Linked DNA regions of Homo sapiens. The protein of the gene in region 1 interacts with the protein of each later gene in a pairwise test. Each region holds a gene or a part of one and is shown in the gene's direction. Other genes may lie near its edges.

Region 1 (3,500 bases):
GTACAGATTATACTACTGTAATAATTTCATAGCTGCTTCCTGTTGCTATTCGGCAAGCTCAAGTGTTTTCAGTATCTGCTTAAAATACCATGTGATACTGTCGTCTCCATGTGAGCAGTTCCTCTCTCTGGTAAATTGCATATCACGGTGAAAAGTGGTCTCTTATGGTTCTTGTGTATTTTTCCTTGTGTTTAATGCAATGCTGCAAACCTCGAATAACACCATGGGACCTATACAAAGAGCAACTAATGATGATGGACACGCTGCCAAGAAGCAGAGAAAAGTCATGACCCTACAAGAAAAAGTTGAATTGATTGATATGTACTGTAGATTAAGGTCTGTACCTGTAGTTGCAGGCCATTTCAGACATTCAATTCATCTTGTAAACAGATGATGTAAACTTATGGTATCGATAAAATACCGTACAGTACTGTAAAAGTATTTTCTCTTCCTTATTATTTTCTTAATACCATTTTCTTTTTTTCAGCTTACTTTAGTGTAAGACTATAGTATAGAATACATATAACATACAAAATATGTTAATCAACTATTTATGATATAGGGTAAGGCTTCCAGTCAACAGTAGGCTATTAGTTGTTAAGTTTTTGGGGAGTCAAAACTTAACATGCATGGAGGATCGAAGCCCCTAATCCCTGTGTTATTCAAGGTCAAAGGCCTTTAACCTGTGTCTTGTCTGTTAGACATTCTTAGTCAAATAGTCCAACACCGAGTGAAGAATTTGGATCCCTGCTCTGCCAGTCACTACCTATTGGAGCAAGACACGTCTTCTTTATTGATAAATTTTTATTTATTTCCAATAAGCCTTTTGCATTCCTACTTCATCTTCTCATGTTTACTCAATCTTCTCATTCCTGCAGTGAGGATGACATATAGCTCTCACCTCATCTAAATGGGATAAGTTTAAGCTTTACTGTGATTTGTTTCCAACAATTATGTTATTTATTCTAGGAAGAAGAAATGAAAATGCCTGCAAAGGAGCTCCTAAAACCTGTACCTTACTAGAAAAGTTCCCCGAGACAACAGGATGCAGAAGAGGACAGGTACCAAGAGTGTCGTGCTGGGGAGAATACAATTAATTGTTAGGAATAAGGGCGTGTTGACCTTTACAAAGAAATGGTTGTTTCCTTTGGCCCAATGAATGCCTCTTTTTACATGCCCTTTTTACTGAAACATAATTTTATGTGGTTGACGTCAGAATTGAGGGTGGAAAATGTTCAGTGTTTATAGCTTTGTGGAAAATGTGAGTGCTTATTTTTAGTTCCTTCACAAAGAAATAAGACTTGAATATAAATATTAAATCTTACAAAGGCTCTAATCCAAACTGACAGTAATTTTGTACTGTCACCTTAACTTAGCAGTTCCTCCACACCTTGATAAATGGCTGAATGGAGTGTCATGTTTTCTATGCAGATCAAATATTCCATCATGCACCCCGGGACTCACGTGTGGCCGCACACAGGGCCCACAAACTGCAGGCTCCGAATGCACCTGGGCTTGGTGATTCCCAAGGAAGGCTGCAAGATTCGATGTGCCAACGAGACCAAGTATGGGTCCTCTGTTATCCGTCATATCCGTCACCTCAGAGGATGAGAGTTTGTTACAACACAGTTGTGTTCCTTTGGATTACTTATCTTCTTTTGTAGCTGAAGTAGACTGGAGCAAAGTGATATTAATCCAAACTCTTAAGTCTATATCCCTTCTTGGTGCTTTCTATTAGCCTGGAGACATTGCCCAGCTCTAGGGCTGCCCTCCTCCATTATTTCTCGGCAGAGTACTTATCTAGTTGAGGAGCTGCCTTGTTTCTCTCTCTGGGTAGACAGATGTGCATTCAGAGTCAGCCAACATGCATTGAGCCCTGCAGATGTTATGCATTGTGCTTCCTGCTTTGCAACTTGACTTATTCATGACTACAAGAAGTACCCCTAACTGAAGAACTCACCCCATGATATTTATACGTTTTGATATAGAGGAGATGGTATGGTGCAATGGAAGCTGGCTGCCTTTTTCAAATCCCAGCTCTAACACCTAACCTGTGTAACCTTGGCTAGTTACTTAATCCCTTCAAACATCAGCCTTCTTGCTTATAAAATTGGCAGTGATAACATCTACTTTGCAGGGTTGTTGTATGGATTAACTGGAATAATGCCTATAAGGTGCTCAGTCCATGTTCTGGTATCAGTCGGGACGTGATGAATGTTAGATCTCCTCTCCCTCCCTTGCGTGTTACTTTCCTAATCCTGACATGTTTATTCATGATCTTTTGAACAAACCATACTTGCTCTGGCTTCTGTACCTATGATGCTGATAATCTCTGTCCCTAGAATGCCCGTCTTTTCACCTGTCCAAAATAAACCTATTACTAAGATCCAATTTAGTTTTATAAAAATAGAACCTCTCAGAGTATATATCCTCAGTAATCCCATTCCTATCTTCTATTACTCTTTATTCATTAATATATATTACCCTTATCTCCATAGCAAGCTGTATGTAAGCTCCTGGAGATCAGAAAGCAAGTTATTGTTGTCTTACACATTTCTTATTGTTCTTAGTAGAGGTCTGAGTGGAGGATGAGTGTTCAGGGGTCTGCAGAATTGTCTATTTGATTATTGGCAGATAACTGCCCTGGGCAGCCCATGGTGCTGTGGGAAATTCAGAGATGACTCAGAAGGGGCCGTCCTCTTCTGAGGACACCTAGCAAGGTGTGTCTGCTCAGGAAGATAACACAAGATTGAAGGCCACCGTGGTCATAGAAGAGGTACTACAGATGGCCTCTCTACAGATAAGCTAAAAATACTACAGATGGCTCCATGAGCAGGAGCCTCACCTGCTCACAGACACTCAACTTGCAGAGTGGTGGTTTTTAAAGACAAGAAGGATTCGGACATTGAAAGCTAAAGAGGGGTATTCTGGAACAGTATCCATTAAAGGCACAGAGGCCAAAAATTATGGCCACATATGAAGAATATTGAATAATAATTCAGCAGCCAGCAGTGTATGGTACATAAAGAATAAGGTTGCAAAGTGAAAGAGTCTTTTAGAAACTAAATCATAGGAGGCTTTGAATCCCAAACTAATGGGATCAGACCTTTGTTAGGAAGTTACTGTGGAACCCATGGGTGAATCCTATGGGGACAGTGGGAAGAACAATTAGCAGGCTGTCACAGCAGCCCACCCAAAAGATAAACAGAGCTGGAATTGGGATGCTGGAAAGAAATGGAGACTAGAGAGCAGATGCAAGAGGTGACTCTTGAATGTGTGATACAGGAATGGGGCATCCAAGATGCTGCTGCAATTGCAGTCTTTGGACAGTGGAGGGTGGCGATGCTTGAGCAAACCTTGGGAATTTGGGAGGCATGAGGCAAGTTCAAGGAAAGGAAGATGAATTTAGTGCTTATGTATTTTATTTAGTTGCTATTGGAACACACTTGTAGAACCATCCAGGAGGTGGCTGGAAATAGAGACCTGGCACTCAGGGGAGA
Region 2 (3,500 bases), on another chromosome or scaffold:
CTCAGCCAAATAGTAATAAAATAGAATATAAACTTTTGTTCTGTTACTGGGACCTCTTTCAGCCTAATAACAAAAGTAATAATAATAGAATAAAAACCTTTGCTCCAGGTTCTAGAACCTCTTTCAGCCTAATAATAATAATAATGATAGAATGAAAATTTTTGTTCCAGGTGTCGAGACCTCTTCCAGCCTAATAATAATAATAATGTAATAATATAAGCCTTTGCTACAGGTACCAGGACCTGTTTCAGCCAAATAATAATAACAGCAATGATAATAGAATATAAACCTTGGCCCCAGGCACTGGGACTTCTTTCAGTCAAACAATCACAATAATAATAATAATAATAGAATATGGATGTTTGCTCCAGCTTTCAGGACCTCTTTCAGACAGATAATAATAACCGAGTACAAACTTTTCTTCCAGGTATCGGGACCTCTTCCAGCCTAAAAACAATAGTAATAATAGCATATATATCTTTTTTTTTGTTTTCTTCTTTCTTTGAGACGGAGTTTTGCGCTTGTTGCCCAGGCTACAGTGCAATGGCGCCATCTCGGCTCACTGCAACCTCTGCTTCCCGGGTTCAAACGATTCTCGTGCCTCAGCCTCCCGAGTAGCTGGGACTACAGGCATGTGCCACTACCACGCCCGGCTAATTTTGTATTTTTAGTAGAGGAGGGGTTTCACCATGTTGTCCAGGGTGGTCTCAAACTCCTGACCTCAGATGATCCACCCACCTTGGCCTCCCAAAGTGCTGAGAGTACAGGCGTGAGCCGCTGTGCCTGGTGCCAGCATAAAAATCTTTGCTACAGGTACTGAGACCTTTTTCAGCCTAATAATAATAACAACCGTAACAATAATAATTAGAATATAAACCTTTGTTACTGGTACTGGGACCTCTTCCAGCCTAATCTTCATAATAATAAAAATAATAATAATAATGGAATTGAAACCTTTCCTTCAGGTTCCAGAACCGCTTTCAGCCACATAATAATAATAATAATGATAATAATAATAATAAATAGAATTTAAACTTTTGTTTGAGGACTGGGACCTCTTTCAGCCCAATAGCACAAATAATAATAATGGAATGTAAACCTTTTCCTCCCAATTACCAAAACCTGTTTCAGCCAAATAATAATATGATGATGATGATGATGGAGGATCTGATACAGCTGTGTCCTGTCACTCAGGTCGGACTTAGGAGGCCTCTTGAGATTCTTTTCCCCCTCCGTTGACTGTGTAATCCAGGGGCCCCACCCTAACTCGGCTGCAGAAGATGCAGTTTGGGGGTTCCTCGTTTTGTGGAAGTCCCGGTCATGTTATTCATTCTCTCAGCACCTTAGAACAAACCAGGGTGCTGGCATTGGCCACAGGACCCCCCTCCTTGCACCCCAGTCTTGGGAAGTGGCACTGCTGGGCTCTGGCAATGCCCAGCTCACCTGGCACGTGGCGGCGTCTCCCTAAAAAGCACTGGGCGGGCACCGTTGACGGAAAGCCAGCAACGCAGGCCGCGACTGCCCGTGAAGACGGGGGGCCTTTCTAAGACCTCCACTCATTATTTCGGGCAAAATTAACCTTCAGAATACCTTGCTTTAATAAAGTACCAGAAACCGGAGGGCTTAAAACCATAGCTTATTCTCTCCCAGTTCTGGAGGCCAGAAGTCTGTAATCAAAGTGTCTCAGGGCTGCGCTCCCTCCGGAGGCTTACGCGGAGGGTGCTTCCTGCCTCTCCCAGCTCCTGGGGGCTCCTGGCGTCCCTGGGCTTCAGGCCAGCCACATCATCACTCTAGTCTCTGCCTCTGTCTCCATGTGGCCTTCTCTGTGTCTGTGTCTCCTCTTCTGTCTTTTATAAGGACATCTGTCACTGCATTTAGGGCTCACTCAAATCCCGGATGATCTCATCTCCAGATCCTTAACTCATGAGATCTACAAAATTTCTAATAACCAAGTAAGATCTCATTCCACATCCTGGGCTTTAGGCTGTGGACAGATCTTTCTGCGGGCCACTGTTCAATCCACCATGATTTTATCCAGTTCATTGTGGAGGCTCTAGAGGAGGATCCTTCCTGCCTCTCCCAGCTCCTGGGGGCTCCAGGCGTTCTGGGTTTGTGGCCGCATCACTCCAGTCTCGGCCTCTGTCTCCATGTGGTCTTCTCCTGTGTGTCCGTGTCTCCTCATCTGTCTTCTATTAAGGACACTGGTCACTGCATTTAGGACCACCTCAATTGAGAATAATCTCATCTAAAGATCCTTACCTTCATTATTAATACATCTGCAAAGACCCTTTTTCCAAACAAGGTCCCATACACAAGTACCAGGTGGATACAGATTTTCTTTGGTAGGGGAGGACGCTTTTCAACCCACTATAGTCATCATTGAAATATGCCTCCTTGCACTGACTGTATCCCAACACTCTGAACGTGCCTGGGTGGTGCATTTTGATATTTACCCTCCTGAGCACTGTACTGGACACTTGGAGACACAATTACACCTTTTAACAAAGCCCAGCTGTCATTTTGGGCAACCCAGTCACAGAGGTGGCCTCCTGAGTGGCAGCTGGAAGGGCCTGTATGTGTGAGCATTCAACCTCAACAGGAACCCTGGGGACTGGCTTCTGGGTCATCTAAGCCTCCACACCGACTGCCTGATGTTTGCACAGGTGTGTGATATTTGCCCAGTTGGGCCTTTCTGCCCACAGGTGTGACTGGACACAATGGGCATTTTGAGAAGTTCCAGGGATTGAGAAATCCATGCTTCTTCAGACGTGCTTACAGATCACGGATGCACCTGTGACGTTCCACATGGCTTCATTTTAAACCATAAAGTTTGAGAAGAGTGTGCAGTGCCTCTTAGCCATAGGAAAGCTGGCTTTAGTCAGATGGAGGTCCTGTTTGGCTTCTTTAATGCAGTGAATGAAGCTCAGGTGGCATTCAGAGAGTCCTGCTGTGATGGTTGGCAGTGGGGGGTCTGCCTGGCCACTTGTGGATTCTTCTATGTAGGCTTCATCCCCAGAAAAGATCTACGCAGCTTTCCCACGTGGCAGGTGCTTGGGAAACTCTTAGGACAGGAACAACAAGCCCCTGCGATGACAGAGGCATTGTCAGGCTGGGCGCGGTGACTCACGCCTGTCATCCCAGCACTTTGGGAGGCCAAGGCGGGTGGATCACCTGAAGTCAGGAGTTCGAGACCAGCCTGACCAACATGGTGAAACCCTGTCTCTACTAAAAATACAAAAATTAGCCAGGCGTGATGGCAGGTGCCTGTGATCCCAGCTACTGAGGAAGCTGAGGCAGGAAGATCGCTTGAACCCGGGAGGCGGAGGTTGCAGTGAGCTGAGATCACGCCATTGCACTGCAGCCTGGGTGACAGAGCGAAACTCTGTCTCAAAAAAAAAAAAAAAAAAAAACTAAAGGCACTTGTCAGGTACAGCCCTGCAAAAATGCCGTGCTCACTCGCAAACCTGTATGTTGACACGTGCGGCATCGCTGCAGTCGGA

The links.
Region 2: the proteins of ASPH (region 1) and DHRSX interact in binary tests that used the Homo sapiens proteins (3 or more experiments, as listed by UniProt).

The regions. Positions count from the first base shown.
Region 1 is NC_000008.11:61,515,593-61,519,092, reverse strand, and holds part of ASPH (aspartyl/asparaginyl beta-hydroxylase), read left to right. Parts: intron 1-969; coding exon 970-1,061; intron 1,062-1,431; coding exon 1,432-1,565; intron 1,566-3,500.
Region 2 is NC_000023.11:2,490,977-2,494,476, reverse strand, and holds part of DHRSX (polyprenol dehydrogenase), read left to right. Parts: intron 1-3,500. UniProt on the Homo sapiens protein: Oxidoreductase that plays a key role in early steps of protein N-linked glycosylation by mediating two non-consecutive steps in dolichol biosynthesis.